Linked DNA regions of Homo sapiens: region 2 is linked to region 1. A link means that fine-mapping ties the variant in region 1 to the plasma level of a protein whose gene starts in the linked region. Region 1 holds a variant in brackets. A gene starts in the other region. All regions are shown on their forward strands. Region 1 has its middle 9.1 kb from the start of SCARA5. Region 2 holds the start of TNN (tenascin N).

Evidence for each region. A credible set is the group of variants that fine-mapping cannot tell apart. PIP is the chance, under the fine-mapping model, that this variant and not a neighbour inherited with it causes the effect. The UK Biobank Pharma Proteomics Project read protein levels with antibody pairs (Olink). The fine-mapping took linkage between variants from a reference panel, not from the people measured, so its PIPs are less certain.
Region 2: TNN starts here. The variant in region 1 is the best candidate, but not a certain one, in a credible set for the plasma level of the TNN protein (UK Biobank, PIP 0.67).

The regions. Positions count from the first base shown.
Region 1 is chr8:27,993,502-28,010,038 of GRCh38, forward strand. No RefSeq gene overlaps it. Among named protein-coding and RNA genes, the nearest start is that of SCARA5, 9.1 kb to the left of the region's middle. The variant C/CA (reference allele first, on the strand shown) is at 680.
Region 2 is chr1:175,057,528-175,074,064 of GRCh38, forward strand. It overlaps TNN (tenascin N), which reads left to right and starts at 10,306. Exons shown (of 19, transcript NM_022093.2): 1 at 10,306-10,408. RefSeq lists an enhancer at 9,627-10,826.

The DNA.
Region 1 (16,537 bases):
TAGGCTATGCAGATGGCTTCCAGAGGACAGCACCCAGAGGTAACATTCATGAATGCATTCCTGTTTGTTGGTGAAAAGTTCAGCCTCAAGACTCCAGGGTCAGGCTTCGTACATGAAAAGTGTTTGCCAAGACTCAGCTGTGTCACTGCAGCTGCCCGCCCACAGCTGAGTCAGAAACGCCGTCCTCATTCTCAGTGACTGCCCTGCCTGACTGCCTAGGAAGCAGCTCCAACATCAAACTCCATTTTACAGAAAGAACAAATGATAATTGTATCATTATGGTAATAATCCCAGGGAGCGGAGGAGGAGAAGGAAAAGAAGACAACACTTTATAGCATATACCATGTGTTTCTTATATATTAGCTCATTGAACCTATTCAACAACCCCCTGAGGCAGGTGCTGCTATTATGCTCATTTACAGAGACAGAGAGGAAGTGACTTGTCCAGGGTCTTGTAGCCAGTAAGTGGCAGAGCTAGTATTCAACCCTAGGCAATGTGATCCTAGGGTCTATGCTCTTAACCCCTCCCCTGTACCATTGCCTCTCAAGGGGAAACAAATGTTTTTGTCCCCCATCAATTCACCAACATTCCTAGGAATGTAATCTTAAAAACAGCCAGAAATGTGCTCAAAATATGATGTCCAACCAGCCTGGGCAACATGACAAAACCCTGTCTCTA[C/CA]AAAAAAAAAAAAATACAAACAATAGCTGGGCGTGGTGATGCACACCTGTAGTCCCAGGTGCTTGGGAGGCTGAGATGGGAGGATCAACTGAGCCCAGGAGTTTGAGGCTGCAGTGAGCTGTGATCGCACCACTGCACCCCAGACTGGGTAACAGAACAAGATCCTGTCTTAAAAAAAAAAGTGATGTCCAAAGACCTTCCCTAAAGAGATGTGTATGTTAGCAAGAAATGTGGTAGTTAGTGTCCCCCTAAATTCAAGCATTGGAAATGTAATCTTTATTGCAACAGTGTTGGGAGGTGGGGCCTTTGTGGGGGTATTTGAGTCATGAATGTATTTGGGATGCCGTAGAAAGGGCTTGCAGGAGTGGGCTGGCTTGATCCTCTGCCTTTCTGCCATGTGAGGACTCCACGCTCATCCTCGCTTGTCCTCCCACCTCCCGCCCTGTTCGAAGCACTGAGTCCTATTGCGTGATAGGCACATACCACACACAATGTGTATATCGGTCTCCTGCTGAAGGGGGTTTGGGATGTTTCCAATCTTTGTCTATTATGAATAAAGCTGCCGGAACAGGCAAAGGGAGATTTGACAGTGAAGTATAGGAATGACCTGGAGGGCTGGTTTTCTCATGGGTGAGAGTCCTCCCGGCAGCTCTTAGCTCAGATACCTCCTTGCCACTAAAATCAGAATTGTCCCCAAAATGATTTGCTTCCATTCAATCACGGATGGCATTTGTAGTAGGCATTTCCCCCCCAGAAGCTGAATGAAAATGTGATTGCCTTGATAGAGGAGGGTTCAATAGACTTCTGAAGTAGTTTCATCTATGAAATCTCAGTATTTGAAATGGAGGGACCAAGCTTTTTCAGTTTGTTTTTTCTAGAGGTAGGATGTCACTTTATCACCCAGGTCGGAGTACAGTGGCACAATCATAGCTCACTGCAGCCTCGACCTCCCAGGCTCAAGTGATCCTCCCACCTCAACCTCCTGAGTAGCTGGGGCTACAAGCACATGCCACCACACCCAGCTAATTTTTTAAAATCCTTTGTAGAGATGAGGTCTCGCTATCTTGCCCAGGCTGGTCTCAAACTTCTGACCTCGAGCAATCCTCCCGCCTCCACCAGCCAAAGTGCTGGGATTACAGGTGTGAGCCACCATGTCCAGACTCCATTTTTGACTCTGATAAATGGTGCTGCTGTGAACATTCTTGTGTGTGTCTTCTGGGGAACATATGAATGCCATTCTCTTGGGCATATACCTGGGCATGGAATCGCCAGGGCATAGGATGGCCCTGTGTTCAGCTTTGGTAGACACTGCCAAAGAGTTTCCTATGGTGGTTGTACTAGTTTATATCCAGCAGGGGATGAAACTACACTTATTCCTTGTCCTTGTCAGTGTCAGTGATGTTTATTCCATTTTCCCTGCTCTGGTGCATTGTAGAGGTGCCATATTGTGGTTTTAATTTGCATTTTCCTGATGACTCATGAAGTTGAGCACCTTTAATTATGTCATTAAGTCTGATTGTTGACTTGAACTCTGGGCCCGTTACACCAGCAGGTCCTGCCCTATGGCTTGGGGTTGGCTGTTCCATCTGCCTGGAGTGGTTCCACCAGATGTTTGCACAACTAACTTCTTTGCCTCATTCCCATCTTTTCTCAAATGTCACTTTGTTCATGCTGCTGAGCCTAATGATTCCTACCCACAGGCCAGGCATGGTGGCTCACGCCTACAATCCCAGCACTTTGGGAGGCCAAAGCGGGAGGATCACTTAAGGTCAGGAGTTTGAGACCAGCCTGGTCAACATGGTGAAAACCTGTCTCTACCGAAAATACAAAAATTAGCTGGGTGCAGTAGCAGGCACCTGTAGTCCCAGCTACTCGGGAGGCCGAGGTGGGAGGATCACTTGAACCAGGCAGGCCGAAGCTGCAGTGAGCCAGGATTGCACCACTGCACTCCAGCCTGGGTGATAAAGCGAGACCTGATCTCAAATAAATAAATAAATAAAATTGCTACACACCCCTTGCCACTCTTAGTCCCCCTCACCCTGCTTGGTTTTGCTTACTGTCTGCTAGAACAGCAGCTCCAGGAAGGCAGCTCACTTGAGTGCTTCAAAATGCCTAGCAGGGTGCCTGGCGCACAGTACACGCTCCAGAAATATTGGTTGTGTGACAATCTGAGGAAACAGCATCAGGCACAGGGAACAGAAGGCTCAGAGGCCTCAGTATGGAAACACACTGGACATGCCGGAGGGGCAGAGAAAGGCCCAGTGGCCAGAGCACAGAGGATGCAGTGGCCAGAGAGAGGAGGTCAGGGGAGAGGGAAGCCTGGGTCTCACCCTGAGCACAGAGTGGAGCTGAGGCCACGCCCTTCTTTTTTGTCTCTATCTTCTCCCAGGGAACACATCGATCCTGTACTGTTCATATTTTTGCTTCTTTTTTTTTTTTTTTTTACATATTTCTTCATTATAGTTTGCTACTTCTTGTTTAAACTTTTTAAAAAAATTAATTGTGGTAAAACACACATTGCATAAAATTTGCCATCCTAACCCTTATTTATTTGTTTGTTTGTTTGTTTATTTATTTATTTATTTATTTATTTATTGAGACAGAGTCTTACTCTGTGGCCCAGGCTGGAGTGCAGTGGCGTGATCTCAGCTCACTGCAACCTCCACCTCCTGGGCTTAAGCAATTCTCCTGCCTCAGCCTCCCAAGTAGCTGGGATTACAGGGGTGAACCACCACGCCCAGCTAATTTTTGCATTTTTAGTAGAGACGGGGGGTTCGCCATGTTGGCCAGGCTGGTCTCAAACTCAAATGATCCACCCGCCTCAGCTTCCTAAAGTGCTGCGATCACAGGTATGAGTCACCATGCTCAGCCCTAACTGTTTTTAAATACATAGTTCAGTAGTGTTAAGTACATTTGAATTGATGTTCAACCAGTCTCCAGAACTCTTTTCATCTTTCAATACTGAAACTCCACTCATTCAACAACTCCCCGTCCCCTGTCCTCCAGCCCCTGGCACCACTCATTCTCCTTTCTGTCTCTTTGAATTTGACTACCCCAGGGACCTTGCTATTTCTTTATCTGTGGCCTACTCTGCAAAAATACACTCGAAAATGTTTACCTTTAGTATTTTCTTTTTGGTTAGTTTTTAATCTGGTTCACATGAAATATAAGTGCTTTTCAAAAGCAATTTTTGTCCATCGTTTACAAACCAGTGTTTATCTTTTATTATTGTTCAGCTTTGTAAAAATATCTTGGTGAGAAGTATGTAATCAGCTGGGTGCGGTGGCTCACGCCTGTAATCCCAGCACTTTGGGAGGCCGAAGCAGGCAGATCACTTGAGGCCAGGAGTTGGAGACCAGCCATGGTCAAGATGGTGAAACCCTGACTCTACTAAAAATACAAAAATTAGCTGAGCATGGTGGCTCACGCCTGTAATCCCAGCTATTTGGGAGGCTGAGGCAGGAGAATCACTTGAACTCTGGAAGCAGAGGTTGCAGTGGGCTGAGATTATGCCACTGCACTCCAGCCTGGGTGACAGAGTGAGACTCTGTCTTAAAAAAAAAAAAGTATGTAATCTTTCAAAACTCAAAATTTGTATTTATCATTTTTAAAAAGTAACATTTAATCATATAATGAACATGATCTTGTTTAGGAGTTCATTTTGGTAAAAATAATTGTACACATGAAATAAGAATTTAGCCTTTGTAAAATTGTATTCAATCAATAACATAAATGTTTTCTGATTTGTCATCTTGTTTATCTCAAAGTATCCATGCAGTCTGAACTGAAGTCTGTTCATCCAGTCTGAACTGAAGTCTGTTCATCCAGTCTGAACTGAAATCCGTCAACCACCCTGACCCACAAGGTCGCTAACCCCAGCCAGCAGTAGCTAGATCTCAGGGAGGAAAAACAGATCTGAGAAAAGCGGCCTCCAAGTCAGAAAGCAGCCCAGCTTTTAACATTTTTATTTGGATTTCCTCCTCTATAATTTTCTGTATTCCCCTCTCCCCTCAAAATTATGAGTACTTTATTAATTAGAAGAAATGGCCAGGCACGGTGGCTCATGCCTGTAATCCCACTTTGAGAGGCTGAGGTGGGAGGATCGCTTGAGGCCAGGAGTTCAAAACCAGCCTCGCCAACATGACAAAACCCCATCTTTACTAAAAATATAAAAATTAGCTGGGCGTAGTGGCGGGCGCCTGTAATCCCGCTTCTCAGGAGGCTGAGGCAGGAGAATCGCTTGAATCTGGGAGGCAGAGGTTGCAGTGAGCTGAGATCGCACCATTGCACTCCAGCCTGGGCGACAGAGTGAGACTCTGTCCCAAAAAAAAAAAAAAAGAAAAGAAAAAAGAAAAAGAAAAAACTACAGTAACCTCATAAAAAGATAACTCAGATTATTTATCCTCAGCACACTAATTTATATGCTTAGCTAGGAAAGCAGGCATGTCAGCAACAAATGCCACTGTCACAAAATGCTGAATTAGGAGTAAATCCCTACACTTACAGTGTCAAGTCTTGGACTTCAATCTGATCATTCCTAAATGCACATCACTGGGCAATCGCTAAGCTTCTTGGTCTCTGTGTTGTCACGGGACATAAAAATAATAACTCCATATCACAGAATAGACAGTGGGATTAGACAGTGGCTGAGAGGCCACTGACAAACCTCATGAGATGGTCCTAGGAGTCCCTTGAAAAAGGATTCTCTGGTGAAAGCCAAAAGCATGCCTTTATTGCAGGACTTATCAGAGCTTTTAAGGTGCTCTTGAGCCTGGTAATCCTCCAAGAGGGGGATGTAGTGTTAAGGCTTCTCCATTCTCACTTGAACAGAGAATAAGGCTAGTGTTCCACAGCATGCACTGAGGGAAATTCTGAGCTGAAATTGGTAGTAGAGATGACTTTCTCAATCATTGAAAATAATTTTAGAAAAATGTTAAGGCCTACTGCTCCAAGTGCCACATCGTAAAAGACGCCCACACTGGTGGAGTCTGAGGAGGAGCCATCAGTCCTGAGAGGGCAGTAAGGCCATCTTACCTGTCCCCTTCCTGAGGAAGGGGCCACGTCCCATTTGTCATTGTCTCCCATCCTGCAGCTCAGCCCTATAAATGCGAGTGGCCTGAACACCTTGCTCAAGGCCAGGGGCCACCCCTGCCCACTAGCCTCCTCCATCCTGTCCTCTGCCACCATGACACCCACACTCCTTCTCTTGTCCCTCTCACCCCCATGCCCACCTACTGAGCCTCTGGCACTGCCTGCCCTTCACCACCACCTTCCAGACTCCCCAGCACAGCTCACCCTTCAAGGCCAGCTCAGACTCTGCCTCTCCTCTGGAGCCTCCTCTGCCAGCTGGGCCTCAGCTTCCCTAGATAATTCCAGTGCTAAGGGCTGACCACCTGCTGAAGGGCCTGAACAACATGCCTCTGGTTGCGCTGAGCTCATTAAAGGCCTGGTCCATATGTTCTACCCTTGCGGCTCCTTCTTCAGCATCTAGCCCAGTGACAGGCCCAGAGCAGATAATGAGCCCACTCTGACCAGTTGGTGTGGAGACTGAAGGAACTCCATCTTGGATGCTGACCCGCCATGTTGACTTCCAATTCACCCCAGTTCCAGGAATGCCTCTAAGATTTCTACTTTCACATACTTACCGTGAATCCTGCCGTTGGGTCTAAACAACCTTGACGTAAATCCTGCCCTTAGCAAATCCATGTTATACCCCTTCCCTGTGTTATATAAGCCCTGGGATAGGGGGTGTTGGTGTGGGGTTCTACCATCTCATCTTGTGCCCACCTAGGACATGGCAGTAGGTTTGCATAGACCTGCTCACCACAGAACGGTTGGTGATATGGATGGTAGACTTCAGAGAAGCTTCGTGAAGCAAACACTGGATTCTGAGCCATGAAGCCTGGTCTTGACTCCCATCTCCACCCTCCTCAGCCCTGTGAGGTAGGCAAGTCACAAAACTTCTTTGAACCTGAGTTTTCACATGCTGTACTACCGGGTTACTATTTCCCGGCCTTACCATCCACCTCAAGGGTGGTTATGAGGCGAAGGCACTTTGAAAATGCTGAAGCTCTTCTCTAATGTCAGCCTTACTGTTATTTTTCAGACTTAGCAGCCCCTGACAAATGGAGTATTAATCACGATGATGGGGCTCCCTATCCAGAGTCCAGCTGCTGACAGCTGGCACTGAGTCCAAGACAGCGGGAGCAAAGTTCTCTGCCTTGTGGAGTTCCCTGCGCCGTCATGGAATCCACCCAACCATCTGCTTCGTCTCGATGTGCTTGGCTCATTTTAATTCTTTTCCCAGAGTGTGGGGATGATGGATTCCGTGAGACAGCCCAGGTTTTCTGACACCGGTCCAGGGTTGTAGACAGCAAAGTCAATGAGCTTCCTCCGTGTCACGTTCATAGCCCAGAGACCCAAGAGCCAGCCTTAACTGGAACTGCTTATTTTGTCAGACTCAATGACCCAGGGTACCCTTTAAGGGATCTCTCTTGGAGTTGAGATGATGTAAAATTTGAGAATTAGATTATGATATCATTTTAATGGGGGTAATTTGTAATTGGTAGCCAAACATGTTTATTCAAATGAATCATAAGAAACTTCTCAAAACAGGGTAAGATTTGGGGCCAAAACTTGTAAGAAGGAATTTAGTGGGATGGGGCAAAATAGACACCCATGTTGGGAAAAGACACCTCTCACATACAGGATATGGAACACCAGGCTTCTCCAGGCATATAAGAAAAAATCTTACATTGGAGATGGCTTTGAGGTTGATGGAAGTCAGAAACAGTTGGGGAAAACAGCTACCAGTTGAGTAACCTTTATCTAAAATGCTTGGGACCAGAAGTGTTTTAGATTTCAGGGTGTTTGTTTGTGTGTTTGTTTGTTTGTTTTTCTGAGAAAGGGTCTTGCTCTGTTGCCCAGGCTAGAATACAGTGGCCTGATCACAGTTCCCTGAAGCCTTGACCTCTCAGGCTTAAGCGATCCACTCACCTCAGCCTGGGACTACAGGCACGCAACACCACGCCTGGCTAATGATTTTACCTTTTGTAGAGACAGGGTCTTGCTATGATGCTTAGGCTGGTCTCAGACTCCTGGGCTCAAACAGTCCTCCCGCCTCAGCCTCCCAAAGTGCTGGGATTGCAGGCCTGGACCACCGTGCCTGGCCTGGATTTCAGATTTTTTTAGATTCCAGCTCAACATCCCTAATTTGAAAATTCTAAATCCTACATGCTGCAATGAGCATTTCATTTAAGTGTCATGTTGACACTCAAAAAGTTTCGAATTTTGGAGCATTTCAGATTTTGGATTTTCAGATTCGGATACTCAACTTGCATTTCAAAACTTAAGCTGCATTAGTAAAAGCAGGATGAACAGAAAGATTGAGGATACAGAGCCTTTGAGCCCTGCGTTAATGAGCTCACAGTTGGTGTAGTATGCTCAGTTCTAGGTTCTTCTGAAAGATTTAGTCAAAACTTAGAGGGTGCCCACCAGAGTGACTAGGCTGGTGAAGGGTCCAGAGAACAACAGCAAAATGCAGTGCTTAACCCAGAGAAGAAACTATGCAACGGGGCATGACTGTGTTCTCAGATACATGAAGGGCTGTCATGCAGAGATGTAAGTTTTCTCTGAACTATCCTAGAGGGAGGGGGGAATGCCACCAAATATACAGAAGTTCTTATTCACCACTGAGCTGTCTGGACCCCAGAACCCTGGCTGACGCCTGGAAATTCCCTACCAATGGCATTGCTTAATCAGAGCTTGGGTAATCTGTACTGCATGGAAGTCTCACAGAGTAGTTTCCCGCACTGGGTGGCTGCCTGCACCCAGTAACCCCGATGCCTCTCCCAGGTCAAAGAAGGCCATTAGAAGAAAACTTTTTCCACCTTGATAAAAAGTAGCTTACAACTGACTTTGTGTTTAGTTTGCTTTGGTTGGGGAAAAGAAAGAACATTCCATGCATGTTTTTAATAGCAAGAACTAAAAACAGGAAATATTATATTCAATAAACCTAATAAGTAATACTAACAAATATATTTCAGCGGCAGATTATACCAGAAAGAGAAAAAAAATGAGAAAAAAAAGAAATAAAGGTGAAGAAAAATTGAGAAGGAATGATGGAGATAAAAGAGAGGAAAATAAGGCAAATAAATGGAAAAAGAGAGAAAGAGGGAGAGGGAGAGAGGAAAGAGGAAATGGAGGAAAACAGTGAGGAATCAGAATATAAAGTCATATAACTTATTTCCTTCTCTTCCTTCCTGAAACATAACACATATCATGGCTAGTGCAAAGTGAAGGTTTTCTTTGTTTAATTTAGATCTTATATTTATCAAAGATATGCATGTATTTTTAATAATTTAAAAAATAACCATAGCTGGGTGGGGTGGCTTGCGCCTGTAGTCCTAGCTACTAGGAAGCCTGAGGCAGCAGGATCACTTGAGCCCGGGAGTTCAAGGCTGCAATGAGCTATGATTGCACCACTGCACTCCAGCAAGATCCCATCTGTAATCATCATCATTATCATCATCGTCATCGTCATGATCATCATCATCATATAGTTCTATGAGGCTTATTATGAAAGCAACAGCTCCCCAGCCTCTCAAACCCATATCCTGTTTCCCATAGGCACCAATTTCCAACCCTTCAAGTCTTACTTTTTATATTTATCTCCACTTTTCTAAATAACATAATTATACTGCTATTTCTTTCTCTTTTTTCAGTCTTATGATTATCCATTCCAACTGTAAGGAAAAGACTTATCTCTCTTTTACTCTATTTCCCACCCATACACATGCCTTCCCCCATCCTCCTCATAGAGTTAGATCATCCTTTTGTTTAGATCATTTTTCAGCTATGACGTGAAGGCTGGACTCAGCTGGGACTGTCTACTGGACCACCTGCACATGGGCTTTCCATGTGGCTGGATTTCTCCTGGCAGGATGGCGGGGATTTGAGAGGGAGCATCCTCAGAGCAGGCATTTCTGGACCACCGGGCAGAGGATGCATGGCCTCTTCTGAATTAGCTCCAGAAGTTCTACAGCATCCTTCCCACTGCACTCTATGGATGGTGGAAGTCTCGGGCATGCCCACATCCAAGGGGAGAAGACATAGATGTCATCTATTACTGGGGGTGGGGGGGTGTCAAAGAATTTGGGGGCTATGTTTTACAACGGTCAGATTAGTTTTCAAATTAGATTGTTCTCCAGTCTCTCCACTTTGCCAACTCCCAAATTAGGATTCAATTTTTCTTGAGTCTGCCAAGTCAGTTAGCACTTGTTTTTCTGCTTTTCAGCTTCAAGAATTTTGTTGCCTTGTCTCAACCATTCTCTTTGACCAAGTTTACAGTTGTTTTAGTGGGATTCTAAAGGCAGAAGAGATAACTGGTTGTATTTGACTTTCATATTTAACCCAAAGTTCCATTTACTTCTTTAATTTTAAAAATGTTTCAGTCATATAATTTTACACTAATTCGTTACTGTGATTGTGTCATCCATGATTGTTTTTAATTAATTTTTATATCATTCTATATATGGCTGTATCTAGACCCTTCACCAGGCTGGCCACCCTTTTCTGGACACCTTATTCTCTTTCAAAAAACTTGTTAAAATGGACCACTTGACATTGAACCCAGGTCCAGGGATATATGGCACTGTGAAGTAATTACCCCCTTGTTCTGGAGGAAATTCTTTGCTGTCACAGCCTGAGGCCAAATGGCATTGCTTAACTGCAACTCCACACTGTTGACTTATACTGAGCCCATTACCCAAGCCACCTTTACCCACAGGCTACTAGTAAACCAAGTGGATTTTTGTTGTTGTTATTCCAATCTTGCTCTTGTGCAGGTAGCTTGTGGACCCTGAATGGAATATTCTACATTTATCCTCAGTTACATTTCATCTTGTTAGCTTCCGATACAGTTAGGCTTTGTATCCCCACCCAAATCTTATCTTGAATTATAATCCCCATAATCCCCACGTATCAAGGGAGAGACCAGGTGGAGGTAATTGAATCACGGGGGCAGTTTCCCCCATGCTGGTCTCATGATAGCGAGTGGGTTCTCACGAGATGTGATGGTTTTATAAGGGGCTCTTCCCCCTTTGCTCGGCACTTCTTCCTGCCGCCTTGTGAAGAAGTTGCCTTGCTTCCTCTTCACCTTCCACCATAATTGTAAGTTTCCTGAGGCCTCTTCAGTCATGCTGAGCTAGGAGTCAATTAAACCTCTTTCCTTTATAAATTACCCAATCTCAGGCAGTTCTTCATAGCAGTATGAAAACACACTAGTACAGCTTCCATTCATGACTCCAGCCTGTTGATATCATTTGAATTCTGATTGTGCTTTCTTAGTATTAGCTAATCTCAGCTTTGTGTCATTTACAACTCGTATCAGCCTGCAATCTGCTACAACAAAACCACTGGCGATACTCTGTAAAGCTCAGGACTAAAGATCTAGGCAACCCCACCAGCCCCCTCTCCCCAGCTGGATGCTGATTCCCTGGGCACTGTGCCCAGCTCTTATAATCCCACTTGTAGCTACTTGGCATTCAGCCTATATTTCTTCATCATGACCACAGGAATGGCATGAATCTTTTTGCTTCTCTGTGTGTATGGAAATTGTTTCAGAACATACTGTATTAATAGAAAATGTGAGCTATAGTAAAGCCAATAGATCAGGAGACAACTTCTATTGAAAAGGTAGTTTGTTACTCACAGTTCCCTAGAGAAGGGAGCATGTCATACCACAGGGGACCACACAGGAAAGCACCAGAGGTGGTCAGGAGGCAGAGGGAGATGGGGGAGCTACAGTCAAGAGCCAGAAAGAATGGATGAGGCAGGGTGAGCAGCTTTGGAGTTGGCTGGTATTAAATGAAGTTCAGCCTAATGCTGCCTCCTTACATGTTTTAAGTTCAGCCTAAAGCTTTCTCTATACAACGCAGACTATAACCTAAATGGAGATGTAAACAGACTGCAACCTACTCTTGTGCCAATCACTGAGTTTTGGCCAATCAAAGGGGGCGAACTGCTCAAACCATGTTCAAATAAGGCAAACACCGAGCTATAACCAAACTGGCTGTTTCTGAACCTTACTCCCATTTTCTGTACATCACTTTTATCTTTCTCTCCATAAATCTTCTTCCACCACGTGGCTATGCTGTGGTCTCCCTGAGCCTACTCTAGCTGGAAAGGTAATTTGCATTTGAAAAGCATGCTTTTTTTTTTTTTTTTTTTTTGGCTTGAGAGAAAGTTACTATCTCTAGGAACTGGTTAGCCCTATCAGGGGCAGTTCTTTCAGGGTTAGCAAGGCCCTAGATGTCAAGGCAGGAAAACCCATAAGATAAAAGGCATGGTTAAAACACAAACACAGCGTATTTATCCTTCAGCTAATGTTGATTCAAGGCGGGCCTGTGAGACTCTCAGAGAAGTCCTGCCTCACTGTTCATGACACTCACCCAAAAGAAGAAGAGAAGAAAGTGTCAGAATAATCTGGCCATGGCCAGGCATAGTGACTCACACCTGTAACCTCAGAACATTGGGAGGCTGAAGTGAAAGGGTTGCTTGAGCCCAGGAGTTGGAGATCAGCCTGGGCAACATAGACAAAATATAAAAATAAATTATCCAGGCGTGGTGGCACAAACCTATGGTTTCAGCTACTGGGGAGGCTGAGGTGGGAGGATCACTTGAGCTCAGGAGGTTGAAGCTGCAATGAGCCGTGATTGCACCTCTATACTCCAGCCTGGGTGACAGAGTGAGACCTGTCTCAAAAAAAAAAAAAAAAAAAGGAAAGAAAAGAAAAAGCGTGGCTACTATTTCCACAGGCAACTCCTATAAGCCCTTTCTGTTCATGAGCACTGGAGATTCCCCTGGGGAGGCAGTAGAAGTTCAGCACAGAGGGGATGGTCAACATTAAAGTATTACATCCCTGTATTCCTCGGTATGTTCCTTGGGAAGTGTGTGCATGTGTGTATACTTCTCAGGGTAGATCCGTTCCTAGAGCAATAGTTTCCCTAGTCTCCTAATTCCTATTGCAACTTCTTATGCATGAAAACCTCAAATCAGAGTTCAAGACTGAGTTAGAATGAAGAACTGCTGGAATTAAGTGTCTGTTTCCTACGAACCATGGAGATAAGCTAAAAGGGGCCGCTGGCAAGAGTGAGTGACCATCCTGTGCTGTAGGTCATATTTCTCTCGCTCTGGGTGGGTACATTTGGCTGCCTCCTCAGCAGGCACTGGCTGTCTGCCACACACATGCCAACACGTGCCTGACAGGGCAGCTGCATGCACCAGGATTTTAGCACGTGTCAGGAGCAGGCTCATGAATCTCATTGTCTCCCCCTGGAAACTGCCAGTTCCTTGAATGAGTACAGGGCAGCTGCCAGGGACCCAGCAACCAGATCTCAGCTGGAGGTAGGGGCTGAGTCCCGAAAACTGCACCTGAGTAACAATGGCCCTTCCACCCTAGTGTCCCCACGTCCCCATGTGTCACCAATGCAGCCAGCAGGTGCCATGAGCATGGGAGCATTGCTGAATCTCCAGTTGGTCCCCTTCCTTGGGTGGCCATCCACTGCCACAGCAGATGGAAAGAGAAAGCCCCTCCAGGCTCCTCTCCCTCCACAGCCCTCCACACGTGCTGTGATCCCAGCATGCGCATTCTGAATCAGTAAAAGCCAGTAAGAAAAACTATCCGGTCCCTTCCAACTCTTACGTGTCCCCACCTGCAGGTTGATGGATGGACCCCTCCTTTGGAAACCATCCTCCCTGGAAGCAAGGCCTGTTTTCCTGTTTTCTTCTCTGAGGGGACTTCTCCCCACCACATCTCCTAAAATTGGGCATGCACAGAGTCCATTCCAGGGCACAGTTGATCTGCAGGCTGACGGCAGAATCTTGGGAGACCACAGGCCTGCTGCTGACGGTTGAACCCAAGCATCCAGGTGCCAACACGCCAAGCCCACACCCTTGGCCTCCCTGAGCCCTGCAGGCTTCCCAGGCCTCTTTGGAGCTAATGTTCCAGCATTCAGACCAGCACACCCAAGCCTGCAGTCTCATGTTACTAAAATAGCTTGGCACACAAGCAAAGACTCCATGGGGGCTCCCAAGCTTCCCCTTCCAGGCACCAGGCCTTCTTTATGCCTCACGCTTCTTGATGAAGCAGATAGAGCACTTCTCAGGGAGTCAGGGGACCTGTCATTAGCAGGATGTTGGAGGAATAGTGAATCCTTCAAGTACACAGCAGTTTTCCTAAGAGTTGTCAATGTATTCTACATGGAAATGAGCTTTTACAGGAAGTCAAGAGCTAAAGGAATGAACAGAGTTAAGAAGATTTGCCTGGTAACCCAGGGACGCTCCATCACACAAATCCAGGGGACACCACTCACACTGTGTTTGCTGCGAACTGCTCCCCCTACGGCTGCGCAGTTTTCTACCTGCTCTTTCCTTCCCATTTCTTCATCCAGTCCCGTGGTCATTTGGGACTCTGTGCCCTACGCTTTTGGCAAATTTCAAGTTAGTCTCTTAGAATGTGAGAGCCAGAGGGACCATTGGGTTTATGGCATCCATTCCTCCACTTTGGAGATAGGGAGGCTGTGGCCTGAAGAGATAACTTGTCTGTGCATCCTAGGCGGAGGCAGGGCCCAGATCCGGCACTCCTGACTTCCTCTTCTGCAGCACTACCCTGTGTGTGGCTGCAGACCTGGGAGCCTGCTGGAAACACAGCTTCTCCAGCTCCAGCCCCAGACCTGCTGAATCAGAACCAGCCTTTGATCAAGACACCCTGGTGACTTGCATGTAAAAGTTCTAGAAGGACTGATCCTTAACCACACCCAGGAAGAAAGGATACAGCCCTCTAAACACACTCTTGTTTCTAAAATAACCCGCATTCCCTGCATTCTGGAAGGAAAAGGACATATGATGTATGGGGAGGAGAGGGAGGACTAAGGTGTGTTCATTTTGCAAAGCTGCTCATATGGAGAACGCTGCCCTCCAGGTGGACGGGCTCAGAAGGAACGTCTGTGGGACGGGCTCACGAAAGCCTGGGAAAACGTGACTCTGTAGTCCCCTCTCTGACTTATGCAATTGTTTGTTTGGACACTTGACTGACACAAACACAGCCTCTTCACTCCTCACCCTCTTGACGTCAAGAATACGACCCTTTGCAGAGAGGGGAGACCTCAGAAGAGTCAGAAGAGTCTTGAAGAGGCCTTGAACTTGAACCCCGCAGAGCCAACAGCTGAACTCCCTCCCTGCCTCCCAGAGGCATGGTTCTGCAGGAAGAGGCTCAGCTCCCGGGCAACCAGACCCTCTCCCCACAGACGCCCCTTTGCTCTTCATGCTGCTCTTGGTTTGGCTTTGGCTGACAGATGTCATTTCCTCATCCCTGCTAGAGTGCAGGCTGCTGCTTCTTCCCAGGGGCCAGCAGTAGGGCCTTGTCCACCTCTGCCCTGGGCCTCCCTTGGTTCTAGGAACAGCAAGCAGTTGTTGGGGGCTGAATTTTCTACCCCCAAAAGTCATATGTTGAAGTTCCCCCCAGTTCCTCAGACTGTGACTGTATTTGGAAACAGTGCCTTTGAAGAGGTAATTAGGGTAAACTGAAGCCATTTGGGTAGACCTTAATCAATAGGATTGGTGTCTTCATAACAAGAGATTAGGACACACACAAGCTCACCAGGGGCACACACGCACACACACACACACACACACACACACATACATGTGGAGTGATGACCATGTGAGGACAGGGAGAAGGCAGCTGTCCACAAACCAAGGACAGAGGCCACAGGAGAAACGAACCCTGCCGACACTTTGACCTCATACTTCCAGCCTCCAGAACTGTGAGAAAACCAATTTCTGTTACTGAAGCCTCCCAGCCTGTGGCACTTGGTCACAGCAGCCGAGCTGACTAACGCACCCATGAGCATGCATGATGAACCCAATTCCGACTTCACAGCAGCTCCTTCTCTGGGAGTTACCCATTGTTATCCATTCCTGTGAGGAACTGGATGGAAAGACTTCTTCTTTTGATTTATTATAAACAAGTGATAGAAGGATGTAGGAGTTTGTGCACAAAACCTAAGTAGTTTTTTCCCCACTGGAAAAGAATCTGCAATGCATCCAGTTGTCTTATGATTGAAGTCTTCTTGTTTTTTTAATTTTACTTTAAGTTCTGGGATACATGTGCAGAACGTGCAGGTTTGTTACATAGGTGTACATGTGTCATGGTGGTTTGCTGCACATATCAACCCATCATCTACGTTTTAAGCCCCACATCCATTAGGTATTTATCCTAATGCTCTCCCTCCCCTTGTGCCCCGCCCCCTGGCATGCCCTGGTATGTGATGTTCCCCTCCCTGTGTCCATGTGTTGAGCTCTTTATTAGCATATTTTTCAATCAAGAGTATTGTAAACTCCTTCTCTCAGGCATAATTAGATTTCCTTTACAGCTAGAGAACCTAGTCTAGGGTCTGATTTGGTCTGTTGCCCATCAGCCCACTGCCAATATTTCTAAAGCTCTATGCCCAGGAGAACAGCACTTTTCACCAAAAGCAAACAAACAAACAAACAAAAAACAAACAAACAAACAAAATGGCAGTCACGGTGCCTATAATCACTGCACGCATGGCTACGCTTAACCGTAAGGGTCTTGTTTGTATTACCAAGTTATTACTCTGTTTTATGGCTCCTTTTTATTTCTCTGCATGCCCCTCCCTAGTTTTGTTTTTGTTTTTTAATCGTGATCCATGTTAGTCAAGGGATGGCCTGTCCCTGTCCTGGGCAATCTGCCCCTGCTCCCCTGTAGCTGGTGGTAAGCACATTCATGGCCCCTGCCTAACTATCTCTTTTAGAGATCAGGTGTGATTCTAAGGA
Region 2 (16,537 bases), not on the chromosome of region 1:
CAAGATGGATTGAAGACTTAAATGTAAGACCTAAAACCATAAAATCCCTAGAAGAAAACCTAGGCAATACCATTCAGGACATAGGCATGGGCAAAGACTTCATGACTAAAACACCAAAAGCAATTGCTACAAAAGCCAAAACTAACAAATGGGATGTTATTAAACTAAAGAGCTTCTGCAGAGCAAAAGAAACTAGCATCATAGTGAACAGGCAACCTACAGAATGGGAGAAAAATTTTGCAATCCATCCATCTGACAAAGTATTAATATCCAGAATCTACAAGGAACTTAAACAAATTTACAAGAAAAAACAAACAACCCCATCAAAAAGTGGGTGAAGGATATGAACAGGTACTTCTCAAAAGAAGACATTTATGTGGCCAAAAAACATATGAAAAAAGCTTATCATCACTGGTCATCAGAGAAATGCAAATCGAAACCACAATGAGATACCATCTCATGCCAGTTAGAATGGCTATCATTAAAAAGTCAGGAAACAGCAGATACTGGAGAGGATGTAGAGAAATAGGGATGCTTTTACACTATTGATGGGAGTGTAAATTAAATACTTAAAAAAGTGCATGTGACTATGATTTTCAACAGGAAAGAATGCCAGGACAATTTAATGTGGAAAGAAGAGTCCTCCCCAAAAATGCTCCTGGGACAATTGGATATCCACATGCAAAAGGATAGAGTTGGATTCTTGTCTCATGTCATATGCAAAAATTAACTCAAAGTGGATCACTGGCTTAAGTGTTAAAGCTAAAACTATAACAAACTTGTAAATCTCATAACCCTGGATTAGTCAATGGTTTCTTATATATGACACCTAAAGCACAAGAAACAAAGGAAAAAAATTTTGACCTTATTAAATTAAAAATTATGGTGCTTCAAAAGACATTATCAAGAAAGTGAAAAGATAATCCAAGAAGGGGAGAAAATGTTTGCAAACCATCTATCTATTAAAGGTCTAGTATCCTGAATATATAAAGAACTCTTACAACTCAACAATAAAAACCAAAAAAAAAACAAATGAAACAATGGGCAAAGAATTGTCCAAAGAAGATATACAAATGTTCAATAAGCACATGAAAAGATGTTCAACATCATTAATCATTAGAGAAAGGAAAATAAAAACTGTAACATAGCATTTCAGACCTGCTATAAAAAAAGACAAATAATAACAAGTGGGGACACAGAAAAATTGGAATTTTTATACATTGTTGGTGGGAATATAAAATGGTGCAGCCACTTTGGAAAACCATTTGGCAGTTCCTCAAAAAATTAAATATAGAGAGACCATATGCCCCGGAAATTAACTGCACTCCTAGTCAAATATCCAAATATCAAAGACAAAAGCATTTATCTGCATAAAAACTTGGACACAAATGTTCTTAGCAGCATTATTCATAAAAGCCAAAAAGTTGAAACAACTCAAATCTTCATCAACTGATGAATAGATAAACAAAATGTGGTATATCCATATGATAAAATATTATTTAGCCATAAAAAGGAATGAAATTCTTAGATATGCTACAGCATGTATAAATCTTGAAAACATTATGCTCAGTGAGAGAAGCCAGACACAAAAGGCCACATATTGCATGATTCAGTTTATATGAAATGTCCAGAACAGACAAATCCATAGAGACAGAAAGTAGATGAGTGGTTGTCATGGACTGGGGGAGGGGGAAGTGGGAAGTGACTGCTAATAGGTGTGGGGTTTCTTTTTGAGTTGATAAAAATGTTCGCAAATTAGATAATGGTGATGGCTGTTCAACCTTGTGAGCACACTAAGAACCATTAGATCAAAATATTAAAAGCATACTTTTATGGTATGTGAATTAAATCTCAAAAAATATATAATGGCCGGGCACAGTGGCTCATGCCTGTAATCCCAGCACTTTGAGAGGCCGAGGTGGATGGATCACTTGAGGTCAGGAGTTCGAGATCAGCCTGGCTAACATGGTGAAACCCCGTTTCTACTAAAAGTACAAAAAATTAGCCGGGCGTGGTGGCATGTGCCTGTAACCCCAGCTACTTGGGAGGCTGAGGCAGGAGAATCGCTTGAACATGGGAGGCGGAGGTTGCAGGGAGCCAAGATTGCGCCATTGTACTCAAACTTGGGAAACAAGAGCCAAGAGCAAAACTCTGTCTCAAATATATATATATATATATATATACACACATATATATATATATATATGTATATATATATATGCGCATATATATACACATATATATATGCGCATATATATACACATATATATATACACATATATATATGCGCATATATATATATATGACTATCTCAGGGCTTTGGGGAAAATAAGACAAAGAAAATCAGTGTACTAATAAATGTTTAGTTTATGACATTTATTATATAAAATGATATTATGGTTGTGAAATTTACTTACTCCATTTTTTATCCTCCTGCCTCCCTGATCTAAATGACTTACAGTGTAGATCAGTAGTTCTCAACTCTGGCTACACACTTGCACATTTTAGAACCACCAGGGGAACGTTTACAAAATACAGTTCTTGGGTTTGACCCATGGCCAATTAAATCAGAGTCTCTGGTTCTCTTCCCCACCCCAACACTGCCAATTTCTTTTATTAAAACTTCCCAAGCGATTACCATGTGCTGCCAAGACTGAGAGAATTATAGGGTAGACCAAGACCTGGGCAACACTGAGTCAGATTATGTGGGGATCCTTCAGCAAGTCTTTTCATTTTTCTCTTCTTAAGTCAGGTTTATTGAGATATAATATATATATATATTAAAATTTATACTTGTAAAATGTACAGTTCAATGAGTTTTGGCAAAGTATTTGACAACCACCACCATCAAGATATACAACATTTCCAGTACTCCCCTAAATTACTTTGTGTCCCTCTGCAACCAATCCCTTCCCCCGTATATTTGATGTACATACTAGAATGCTGTGCAACATTAAAAAGCATGTCTTTTTAAATAAATGTAAGAAAATGGAGAAAAAAGTTACTATATAAGGAGCAAACAGAAAAAATTCCCTATATAATATAATCTTAATTGTTTAATCTTGTTTTTATGTATATGCACAGATATTATATGTCTCTCTACATATGAAAACATTCGTAGAAAAAAATTACTGGTTATTTCTGGTTGTGAAAATTACAGAAAATGTTAATTTTCTTTTTTATATTTTTATACATTTTCTAGTTAGTCTACAATAATAAGTTACTTTTGTCATGAAAATAATGATATTTACAAAATAGCAACCTATGGTCAAGTAATGCATCAAGAGCCTTCTAAGGATCGAACTGTCAGCCCCTAGGTTCTGGGTCCCTAGCTGCAAATGCAGATTTCTAATTTCACACACCAGGTCATTGGCTCATAGCAACTGCTATTGCTAAAAGAGGTTAATGAGAAGATACTGACTTCTACTGAGATGGATATCAAAACATATTGACTCAAGAGAAGGAAATATTGATGGGAAAAGAATCAAGGTCTTTCATTGCCTTGAAGGGAGTAATAAACCTTCTTAGCTGAATCCCACATTCTCTTCTCTGTTTTTATAGGCACACACATCTAATGTCAAAGATGGTGCATCTCTGTAAGCACTATTAGAGACTTGAACTCAGTAACTATTACAAGGGATGAATAAGAAGAAAATGGGTACAGAATAAATATAATTTATGGAGCGTGACAGCGTGCGCGCGCGCGCACACACACACACACACACACACACACACACACACACACACACAGAGAGAGAGAGCGCCAACACAAGATATTGACCCTAGAGGTCTGTTCAGCTTTGGTTTCAGTTCTTTTAGATTCAGCAGAATCCTAATTAAAGATATGAAGACATATCTTCCAGCCAGCTCAAACAGATCAAAACCAGCTGAGAGCAGCTCTAGGTCTCCAAACTAGACAACTGATTCAGGCTCCCTTAGAGCCAGCACATTGGCCTACTGGGTTTTGGGAGATTTCTTAGGATGAATACAATTAGAGACGACCACAGATGACTGACGTTGGAATGCTTTCTCCTACATTTTTCTCAAATAAAATAAGACATAATAACATGTTGGTTGAACCATCATTTGAATCAGTGACTTTTTTCCGGGTTGTTCTGGAATGGGTTATACTATTTGGACAAAATGAGTTGAAATTAGTTTCATATTAAACTATTCCCCTAGTTTGAATATAGGCTCTTGTATCATTTTTCCATTTACATGTTACTAAGAAAAAAAAAACTGAATCCCTTAGAATGCTAGCAGCTCTAAGAAACAAACTCCTGATTCAAGAAAGTTCTGAAGTAGGAAAACTTGAGAGGTGGTTAATTCAGCAGGATAGCAACATCATAAAAACACAGGATTTCTTCCATTTTCTGTTCCGACATCCTTGGTGTGTTTTCTTTGTCTTTGGCTAGCACCCCTTATGGTTGGTTGTAAGGTGTCTGCCACAGTTCTAGGTGTTCTTTGTAGATGTGACAATATCCAATTCTTTTGAATTTGTTTTGTTTTGTTTTGTTTTGAGACAGGGTCTCACTCTGTTGCCCAGGCTGGAGTCCAAGGGCATGATCACAGCACCCTGCAGCCTTGACCTCCTGAACTCAGGTGATCTTCCTACTTCAGCCTTGAGAGTAGCTGCGACTACAGGTTCACACCACTATGCCCAGCTAATTTTTGTGTATGTGTTTTGTGTTTGTTGCTGTGGGTTTTTTTTTTTCATTGTTGTTTTTTTTTTTTTTAAGACAGGGCCTCGTCATGTTGCCCAGGCTGGTCTCAAAATCATGGGCTCAAGCAATCTGCCTGCCTTGGCCTCCCAAAGTGCTGGGATGGTAGGTGTGAGCCACCACACCTGGTCTTTTTTTTTTTTTTTTTTTTTTTTTGAGTGAAGGAACCTTTCCTTGAATCTCCATCTGTGTCCTCTCCTTTATGTCTCACCCACCCTCAAATTCACTGCATGTTCTTGCCTAAATTAGTCACTGGCAAGGGTGATGAAATTACCCTGGTTGGCTTAGATCAGTCAGAGCCCTTCCCTGAGCCCAACCAAGATCAGGAGGTGGTGAGTAGACATCAAAATAAAATTAGGGTTCTTGGTGAAGAAGAAGGGCAAGGCTCTCAGGGAGGCAGGCAAAATAGGGCCTGCTACCACGGTGTAGGCCTCATATGTTTGGGGAATTTGCCTTGTTCTTGGGCATCTTAAGGCATAAATCTGTCATGATGGAATTTCAGATAGCTTATTATTTACTTTACAATACCATAGGTAGTGAAGGCAATAAAAGAAAACAGTCCTCATTCTCCATGAGCTCATACTGAAGTTAAGGAGCCTCTTCGTGGACACAACTAACAGCTAGCCACTACTGAAAGTCTCTAAATGAAGAATTCTGAGAAGAAATCCTATAGCTCAGGTGTCAGCCAAGATCAGCTTTCTTAGGGAGTTAAATAAAATTGGCTCCAATCTCGATCCTACATCTTGTGAGAAATCTGAGATCTCCCCATTCCCACATCCATGACCAACTCCTCTGGATTCTGTCCTGGGCAGTGTGAAGGGCTTACATCCCAGGGGTCATGCCTGGACCCGAATTTCTGCTTCCTCTGAAGTCTGTTGCACTATGCCTCACATCTTACAGACATTTCCTTGTGCAGTGCTGACCCAGATGTGTGATGTAGCTCCTGTCTTTTGGTTTATCTTTCCCCATCACATGAGTTAAAAAAAAGCATTTGTGTGGGTGGAAGACTTAACTTAAGGTTTGGGACCAGGAAGAGGGATTTATAGAAAACAAAGCAAACAAGCCAGGGTTGGTGGCTCACACCTATAATCCCGACACTTTGAGAGGCCAAGGAGGGTGAATCACTTGAGGCCAGGAGTTTGAGACCAGCCTGGCCAACATGGTGAAACCCATCTCTACTAAATGTACAAAAATTTGTCAGGCGTGGTGGTGGGCACTTGTGGTCCCAGCTACTTGGAAGGCTGAGGCAGGAGTATCACTTGAACCTGGGAGGCAGAAGTTGCAGTGAGCCAAGATTGTGTCACTGCACTCCAGCCTAGGCCACAAAGTGAGACTGTCTCAAAAAAAAAAAAAAAAAAAAGGCAAAGCAAACAATGTAATATAGAGTAGACATTCTTGCTCTTAAAAGTGATTTTCCTATTTCACCTGCCCCACTCCTCCCCAGGCCTTAGCCTCATGACCTTCATAATCTTAACAATCTTTTCTGTTTTCCTACTGCCAGTTCCTATTTATTTCATGCAGAGCAGTTTTGCATTTTTTTTTTTTTGGTTTGTTTGTTTCTTTGTTTCATTGCAAACTTGTCCTAAGGATCCTAAGTATTTTCCTGAACAAAGAGAGTTATCTCTCTAAGAAAAACTCTGAAGCCAGGTGTTAAAAAAACATTTCACATTGATTCAGGCTATTATAGTAGGGAAATCTGAGCAGATCTCTTGGATGTGGAGATGGGATTGACTTCAAGAAGTGGGGGCTGCATCACCAGTGTCTGGAGACAAGGAGGAGCATCATGTTTACCAGGGACTGAGAGGAGGCTGAGTTGGTTGAAACTGATGGTTTGGGCCGGGTGTGGTGGCTCACGCCTGTACTCCTAGCACTTTGGAAGGCTGAGGCAGGTGGATCACCTGAGGTCAGGAGTTTGAGGCCAGCCTGGGCAACGTGAGGAAACCCTGCCTCTACTAAAAAAATAAAAATTAGCCGGCCGTGGTGGTGGGTGCCTGTAATCCCAGCTACTCGGGAGGCTGAGACAGGAGAATCACTTGAACCCCGGAGTTGGAGGTTGCAGTGAGCCGAGATCTCACCACTGCACTCCAGCCTGGGCAACAGAGTGAGACTCTGTCTCAAAAAATAAGTAAAAAATAAAAAAAACCTGATGGTTTGTATTTATAAATAGCAGGGGAATAATTTGGATATGGAGGTGCATAGGAAGGGGCATGATGGGGCATTACAGAGAACTTTAGAAGCGTAATCCTGTAAGTAATGAGAGTTTCTGGAGGATTTGGGGCAGGGAAAAGATATGATTAGATTTTAGAATTCAGGGAGAACACTATACCGGTAGTGATTGGGTAGGCTCTGTGGCAGACTTCAAGCTGCCCATCAACCCCTATTCTTTCTTCCTTTCTTTACTCACAGAGCTCCTGAGGTTTAGTTGAACACAACCACTGTGCCAGCCTCTCCGGCAGCTGTATGTGCACATTGGCTAAATTCTGGCCAATGGGATGCAGAAGAAGTGATGTGTTCCTTTTCTAGCGTTATCCAAAATGTGCATCATTCTCCAATAGAAAGAAATAAAGATATTTGGAGAAATGGCTGCTTCTAAAGGACTGGGTAGGAGAAGTGCAAGATCAGTCTGGAATATCTTGCTGTGCCAAAAGTAAGGAAACACTCAAAGAATGATGGAAGTGTGTTAAAAGCACACAGTAACCAGCCTGAAGGGTTCACCCTGGCCAAATCTGGGGCAATTTGAGCAACAAAATAATGATAGTACAGGAATATAACCCATAGAATGAAAAAAAGAATATGAGTCACTTTGAATATAAGGTGATTAATAAAATAAAGGTGGGGGAAGAAAAATTACTTTTTATAATAGAATTCTATCTAGTAAACATAAAAAGAAAGATGAAATTAGGAAAATCGCCATTTGGCAGCCAGCATAGTAGTAATTGTTCCAGGCAAGAATCAACAATGGGTGTTAAAACTAGTGAGTGAAAATATAAAAAGAAGCAGAATATTTACATGGTTTAAAAACATCATCCCACAATATACCTGTTAAATAAAAAAGGGCAAATATTTACTGTGGAGAAACCTGGCAGATATCACCCTAACCAAGTGGTCCAAGGTAACATCACCAACACTGGGACAGACTGCCATCAAGTGTCTCCTGATGTGATGGACCAAAGACACGCCGCTTCTGCCGCTGCCTGCCAAAAACGTATGGCCTAAATCTAGGCATGAAAAAATACCACACAAATGCAAACTGAGGACATTCTTTAAAATAACTGACGTTTTCTCTTCAAAAATGTTAAGGTCATGAAAGATAAAGATTGAAGAACTATTCCAACTTAAGGAAATTTTAAAGACAGGACAACTAAATGCAATTAATTATCCTGAATTGAATCCTGGGTCTGTAAATTATTTTTCTTTTGCTATAAAAGACATTAGAGAAACAATCAATGGAATTTGAATATCGTCTGTAAATTAGACAATAGTATTATGTCAATGTCAATTTCTGATTTTGATCATTGTATTGAGGTTATGAGAGAGTATGCCCTTGTTGTTGGGAAACACCCTATACTAAAGTTTTTAGACATAAATGGGTAAAGAGATAAATCATGTCTTTAATTTGCTCTCAAATGTTTTCAGGGAAAACTATTAAGAGAGAATGAATGATTGGCAAATATGACAAAATGTTAACACTTGGAGAATATGAGTGAAGGGTATACAGGGATTCTTTTAATATTTTTGCAATTTTTCTGCAAGTCTGAAATAATTATAAAATAAAAAGTTTTTGTTTTTGTGTTTGTAAGGAATGAGCACGCACTTCCATCTGCCCTCATCCCTTTACCCTTCCTGTTGGCTGGGAGATGATGACCCTAGAGAGTGGTGGGTGTGTGCTGTGGATGGTGGCACTGCCCTACCAGCCCTGGGCCACTGTCTTCTACTGTTTGGGGAGAAATCATCTATGTTGTTAAGTCACTGCATTGGAGGGTCTCTTTGCTACAGCTCCATGTCCTGCAACTAACTAATACCAGCTGTAATAAGGAGAGATTGGAGGAAGGTGGCTTCTTAGGAGCCTGGTGCACTGGTTTAGTTATTCCTATTGAGGGCATGGAAAATGGGGTCACGGAGAGAGTTGGTGAAGACCACTCATTTGGGGAGAGTTAGTGAAAGGAAATTAAGAATAGGAGAGCAACTTGAGGGCGCAATAGAGTCTTAGGATCCTCTGGGAGAGATTTTCCCTTTTAAGAAGCAGAGAAAATAGTCCAAGGGAGAAAAGAGATGTTTGGGAGTTGGGAAATTTTCTGGTGACCCTGGTTCCTACTGCACTGGTCACCTCTGTATATGGCTGGCCCAGATTCCAGGGCCAGATAGCAGGATTATTTGTGGTTGTAAGTGAAGGGCAGAGAACTATGAACCTACCTGGACTGAGGTGGAGAGGATCAAATATGATTTAGTGGGATACATAAGGAGAATTAAAAAGTTATAATAATCATGGTAGCAGGTAATCTTTACCAAGTCCTCATTGTGTCTTGGGACTAGTCTAAGTTCTTTACCCCATCTACTCATTTGAACCTCACAATAACCATAAGACACTATTCCTATTTTACAGACGAGTAAGCTGAGCCACAAAGAAGTTGTCAAAGGTCATTTGCAAGTAGCAGACACAAGCTTCAGATCCAGGCAAGCTGCCTCTGGGAACCCCCCTCCAATTTCTGGGGGCCACTTTTTGGTCCCCCGTCTCTCCTTCTCCTTTCCCTCCAGCAGCATTTGATGCTGACATAGGTGAACTGGAAACATATGGTCTCCTTCATTTTGTTGTGGATCTGCACTCCAGAATCTACTTCCCACAGAGCAGGAGAGGGATGGGGTGTAAGGAAGGGTGGCAGGTGTCAGCCCATGCCCTATTGAAATGACTCTGGTTCATAGGAAGGATGAAGGCCTGTCCATCTGAGGGCAAAAGAGGAAGGGCAGCCAGAAAGGGGCACGACTATTCTTTCCTGATTTTGGAGCTCTTGTACTGTTGGCGTGTGGGAGGCATTTGGGATGGGGTGAGGGTCAGAGTGGGCTTGTGGGACCGAATGTCCCCAGTCTGTTATTCCTGCCCCCACTTCAGAGTCCTGCCACTCACAAGTGTGAGACGATGGATGAAGGAGGAGGGAAGTCAGAAGAGCTTCTGTCCCTGAGGGTCTCTGCTCATTTCTTTCTGTGCTAAAGGCTTTTTCCCATTTTAAAAGCAGTAGGCAGGAAGTCCCAGAATGCCTGAAACAGGAAAAAGAGAAAGAAACTTTATAAATGCACTTTTGAACCCCGAGACCCAGCTCCTGGCCAGGAGACAGGCAAACTCTTTTAATATCCTTATTCTGGATTCACTTAAATGGAAACAGCCTCCAGTATTTTTAGCTGCTGTGTAATCAAAGTGAAAAAGAAGAAGGAAATGTATATATTTTTCTTTCCTAGTTAGAATAAGAGAAGGAATTGCTCATTATCTTTTAGCAGAGTCCCTGCTAGGAAGGGAGGAAAACACCAGGAGTCTCCATTTGCTCCTCCTCTGGCCTAGACAGGATTTAAACCCAGGAAGGGAAGCCAAGGAGAGACGAGAACCAGGGACGACCAGCAAGTACCAAGGTCTGCGGCAGGAGGAGACCGGCTCACAGGAGCAGCAGCATTGGAAGAGGCACCCAGCAGCCTCCCAGGTAAGAGTGCCAGTTGCCCAAGCTTTACTTACTGGAGGGAGGGAGGTGGCCAATGCAGATGAGCTCAAAAGTGGTGGCTCAGGTGCCTCCGTTCCCGAGCCTGAAAATCCGGGCAGTGTAATTAGTCTCCTATCACCTCCATGAAGAGTTAAAATGAATTGGGAAGTACCTCTCAGGACCCGTGTACTGCATCCTTAGTATTATACTCCAGTCTCAGACAGGGCTAAGCATAGTTATCCTCTTTCCTGCAACACAGATGCGTCTGTGTTGTATCAGCTTCTACCTGGCGTAACACATTTTTGTATAAAATGTTTCCTTTAAGATGTTCCTTCTCATTTTTTTTTCTTTTTAACTTACTTACAATGTCAAAGCTTTCTCTCTCTCTGTCTTTTTTTGGATAATTTAGTATTGTTGTATTTCATTATTCTTTTAAATCCTAAAACAGAATTGTTATTTTAGTTATGATTAGGAAGCTATGATAACTTTCCCTTTGTCTGGATTTTGTGTGAATCAGTTAAGGGGATGTTTGCAAACACATTTGAACAGCTTTGAAGTATCTCCAGACATTTAATTTTACAGGTTTTAATTATTATTTGTTAAGACGACAACTTCTCTCGAAATCCCCATACTATTACCCTCACAATACCTCAAAGAAAACATTTCAAGACATCTAAAAAAATGATGTGGTTGGCCGGGCATGGTGGCTCATGCCTGTAATCCCAGCACTTTGAGAGGCTGAGGCAGGTGGATCACCTGAGGTCGAGAGTTCGAGACCAGCCTGACCAACATGGAGAAACTCCGTCTCTACTAAAAATACAAAAAATTAGCCGGGCGTGGTGGCGCATGCCTATAATCCCAGCTACTTGGGAGGCTGAGGCAGGAGAATTGCTTGAACCTGGGAGGTGGAGGTTGCGGTGAGCCGAGATTGAACCATTGCACTCCAGCCTGGGCAACAAGAGCAAAACTCCATCTAAAAAACAAAAACAAAACAAAGCAAACAAACAAAAAAAACTAGTTTTTGGAGGTCTTACTTTTTACTTATTTATTAATTTTTGTGCTTGGGAGAGATCTGGGGGAAGGATGGAGAAAGAATGAATGAGAACAGGCAGGGCTTCACTTAAAAGCATGAAACCTGTGTTGCTTATATAAGCATTAAAAAAAAGAACAAGTTCCAACATAAAAGTAACAAACTGCCCACATTGGGACACAGGTTAGCCACAGTGCCTAAAATCCACTGGTTCTTGGAAAAGCTGAGGTGTCACCAAGGCATCAGATGATACCTTGCTCGGTCAGGGCTACGTATTGGCAGCTGGCCTCTTGACATTCAGACATTTGTTGCAGACTCAGAATCAAGGTGACAGTGTCAGACACAGGAAAAAATAGAGTATCAATACTGGTATCATTTTTCCAGGAGAGAAGGGAAGAAGGCACCTGGCATTCTTTCATACAACTCTAAGTACTGCTTTGTCCCCAGTTTATAGGCTGCAGCTGACTCCCGAAGGAGGGAAAATAGAACAAATGATTTCAAATCATCCCGTGGCTTCTGGTTTTCCAGTCCAGTGCTGCTCTGTGGTTTGAAATGTAGGGTGGGCAGAGCTCTCTTTCTGAGAAGATGCCTGAGGAAATTGTGCCCAGGCCCAGTGGAAACTTTTGTCCATTCACTGCTCATTCCAGAGCCTTGGCTCCTATAGGATCTGGATACAGACATGAGATCATGGTTTAGGTCCTGTAGCCACATCTGGAGCCACCAGTCTGTGAGCAGAAGTTGCTAAGATCTCAGGCCTGATCTCTGGATGGACAGGGACTTTGCTGCTTCTGCCACAGTGGACTCACTGCTAATGCTGCCCAGCCACCATTTGAATCTGTACCCAGCGAGTGTGAGTGGAACAGTGCAAATGCTTGGAAATTAGCAAACGCTCTCCTCCTTGCTAGAAGACTGGAACTTTAAAGTTACTTCAATATGTGGAAAACAACACGTTAGCTAAAGAAAGAAATTGCAGAGTTTTTTGTTTTGTTTTGTTTTAATCTGACGCCCCTCACACCCATGGATATTAGGGCTAATTGTATACAAAGTAATATTTAGTCATTCTGGGGACTGGCTGTTTGGTTGAATAAGGGAGAGGAAGGTTCCTGAATTTAGGTCCCGTGTCTATTTTATCTTGTTATTGTGCATGAGCTTGGTCCCACAAAAGCTAAAGGAAGTTCTTGCTGTGAGAAAGTGATTCATTCTCTGGGGGTAAATGAACATCTTTGCCTGATGTCCAAGAGGAGATTTTAAAGTGCTTTGCACAGAGCCTGGCATGTAATAAATGCATAGAAAATGGTAGCTACCATTATCATCACTCATTTGAGCCTTTGCAAGGCAGATTAAGAGTCAGTTGTCAAAACAAAACAAAATGAGCCTGTGGTCACCCCTGAAAAAGTGATTGAGTGCTGAGGCTGGGTCAGGACACCATCCTTGATCTTTTCAAGCCTCAGGCGGGTGGGCAGACTTGATGGGATGGCTCTCCAGGAAAAGGGTTCTAGCACGGTGGTGTGAGAGTCATCTCCAAGGACTTCCTGGACACTCCCTGGGTATCCCACAGAACTAGGAGAATGGGGGGACAGAGTGATACCCAGAATGTGACCATACTAAGCCCTATCACATAAAACCAAATTTCCATTCTCTTCCATACTTAGCTGTCTTGTATCCTATATGCAATCCTATATTCAACATCACAGAGACTAGAAATAAAAATGTTTGTATGTACTTGCTTCTACTGGAGTTTAACCTAGGAGAGACAGACCTCCCTTGTATATCCATTTTCTTGGATCTGAAGGAGAAAGAGATACAGAGGTGAAATCGGTCCCCTAAGCCTCTAGTTCAAGGTGAGTTGAGCCAGGGTAGATTCCTCAGCCAGCTGAGAACTTGCTGTCCTGGACCAGGTTACTTGGGAAGTACAGGGAAGGCCCCTGAGTCACCCAGGGCCCAAGCTGCAGATCATTAGCAATATATGCCAAAGAGAGTTAAGGAAGGAGTGACAAGTTTGCCAGTGACATTTGTGACATTGATGCATCCCTAGCCACTCATCTCCCTCATTTTCCTTCATAGTTTAATGATATCCACCCTGTCATTTGGGGACAGAATATCTTCTTAAGTGACTCTGTTGGAAATCCATGATGATACACTTTTTCTAAAACCCAAAGCAGTGCTTTCATTTTCCTGTGGTTAACTGTCAAGGCAGGATGAGATAATAAGGGAACCAGAGAAAGCCCTGAATTTAAGTATAAAGGTCTGTAACAGTGGCTAGAAATTGGCTACCTCTCTTCTTTGGCGTAAGTAGTATTTTTTTTTTCCTGACCCAGGGTGTGTGTCCTTCTTTGGGGAAAATGAGGTGACACAGAAACCATCCACCCCTGGGGTCCAAGAGGACCATCAGGATTCAGGGGCCATCCTCCTCCCTTGGCCAAGGCTTGGATGCCATCTGCCCCTGCAGACAGAAGTATCTGTGCACTTTGGTGTTTCCTAGGAAGGGAATTCTCCAGCTTCTCATGAGAATTGACTGGGACTTAACCTCTATGTGAGGGAAATGCAATTCATGTCCCCAGTGGATCATCCTTGGCACCACTCAGAGGAAGTAACCCTCTCTTAAAAACACATGGCAGAACGGAGGACATCTGGTGTTTTTTTTGTTTTTGTTTTTGTTTTGTATATACAGGACATATAACAGACAGATGAAGAACACAGACGCAGGCAGTGGACAGACCTGGTGTGTGATCCCAGCTCTGCTGCTTTTTAGCTGTGTGTCCTTTGGCAAATTACTTAACTTCTCTGAGGACCTGTCACAAAGAATGATATCAACTGACTCCCAGGACTTTGAGGATTAAATGAGGATAATTTTTATAGCGTTTGGCACAATGTCCATTATCTAATAAGCACACATACACAGACACACACAAATCCAGTGGCTATTACTACTTACTTCACAAAATATTACTTTGGCAGGACTGTGCTATGAGGCTGGTGATACAGAGGGGATCAACACAGTCATGGCCCTCTCTGTCATCTCTGAGCTCACAAGGATACCTGGGCTAGAAACACGCATACAGATTTGGCAACTGTCAACATTTGGCTGGAAATTAAAGCCACAGGGGTAGATGCAGATACCAAGAGAGAACACAGCAGAAGCATAGAGCCCTGCAACATCTGAAGGCAGAAGTAGGGGGACCATCCATGCAGCCCATGGTCAGTCGTGTACTCCTCAAAGAGCCTTTCTGGTAAAAGCAACACAAGGCAGCATTTGTTCCTGAGTCTAATGTATCCCTCCCTCCCACCTTCCCACACCACCCAACACCCCTTCTGCAGTCAGAATTAAAGACATGACCAGCCTCTGTAAGACAATGATTCTTGGGGACAACTGGTTTCCTGTGGTTCCTGCATACACATTTCCTGCATGTAAATGCCCTTCGCTTCATGCATCCCTGCAGAATTTACCCAACTTTCCATGGGAAAATACCCCTCAGCAGAATAATCCTCCCTATTTGGAAATGTATCATCCTGCGTTTTGCTCAGAAAAATCTTCTGCCCTGTCTGCCCCCTCCCCACCCTCGCGGAGCTCAGCCTGTGGTTTGCTGTGCATACTGAAAGAGTCGATGAAGTCATCCTTCCCTTCTGCTGTTAAACAAGGAGTCTCTTTCCTGCCACGTGTTGGAGTGAGAGCCAGCAGGCTTCTCTTCTTGCTCATTACACTTGACAGAATGTTAGGTTGAGGATTTCCCTTGCTCTCATCTTCTTTCGAACAATCAACCTACCCAGGAAAATCTGAGCGCAACTTGTGGAATCTGAGAGGCAGTAATTAATGAGGACATCTTGTTACAAATCAGAAGGACAGGCAACACCAAGGGCTCCAACAGGGACTTGTGGGAGTTCTCATATTCCAGGCTACAAAAACAAATGCTGTAGACCTGGGCTCTGGGCAGCCTTACTGTGGTTGATGGCAAGAGTCCACGGCTTTTTTTTTTTTTTTTTTTTTTTTGCTTTCGTTGAGAACTTCTTCAGAAAACCATCTGCACTTCATTTATGTCTCAGGCTGGGGGTGGGGGGTCGGATGGAAAGCACGGGCAGAGAAGTCTGCTTTTTCAGCCCTATTTTTGCCCAGGAAGAAGATTTTTGGACAGTGGAAACTCATGTGCTGCCATGAACACAGTAGGTGCTTTAGAGATCAATATGCGTTGTTACTGGTGAACGGCAGAAGTGTATAGGGATTAGTGGCTCCATTGCTGGACACTGTGCATCTGGGATTGCATCTGTGGCCGTGTGCTCATCAATTGCATAATCAGTTGCTCAATGCCACTGAGCCTCAGTTCCTATCCTGGGGATCAAGTGGAGAATAGCGTGTGGCTTTTATCTTTGTGATGAACGTCTAAGGATGGCCGTTGTGAAATATCATTATTTTTATCCTACACCTGCCTTCCAACTCATTTTCCTGGCTTCCCACTCCCCCCATCTTCTGACAAAAATCTCAAGCAGATTCCAGAGCTTTTCTGGTGGCTTTTGGTCTTAGAAGAGAATTGCTTTTGTGAAAGCAAGTCCATTTCAGTATTGAGCCTCAGTCTCTCATCCAGGCCACATCTTTTCTTCTTTCTCAGCTCAGACCTGATGCTGGAACCTGCAGAGAAGCTGGAGGGAAGGGGCTTGGGGCTTTCCTCCCTCCACTTCTCTCTCCTTAACATGCATGGCTGCTTCTGGCTTCACCAGTTTGCTGCTGCCTGGGGCGAGGTGAGGGTTAGAAAAGAAGGGAGAGGGCACTTTTACTTTACTGGGGCTGTTGTGGTTCCCTCTGTTGGATGCCCTTGTTATGGTGAATGCTTCCAGTGCTGGGCCACCCCTCCTTTGTGGGGAGCTTCTGTGGGATCTTTAGATATTCCCCTTCCCACCCACTGGGCATGTCCTGCTGCAGTCGCCCCCTTGGGGTGGCACACTCCTGCTGAACGGTGGACCTGCACCTCAGCTCGGGCCCTGAACTGCCCTCTTGGTAGCTCTAACATGCCTCATTTCTGTGACATCAACTTGGCCTCGCCAAAGTCTGAGTTTCAGTCCTCTCACACTGCAGCCCCCTTCCTCTCTCTGCCATGCAGCCTGTTCCAGCC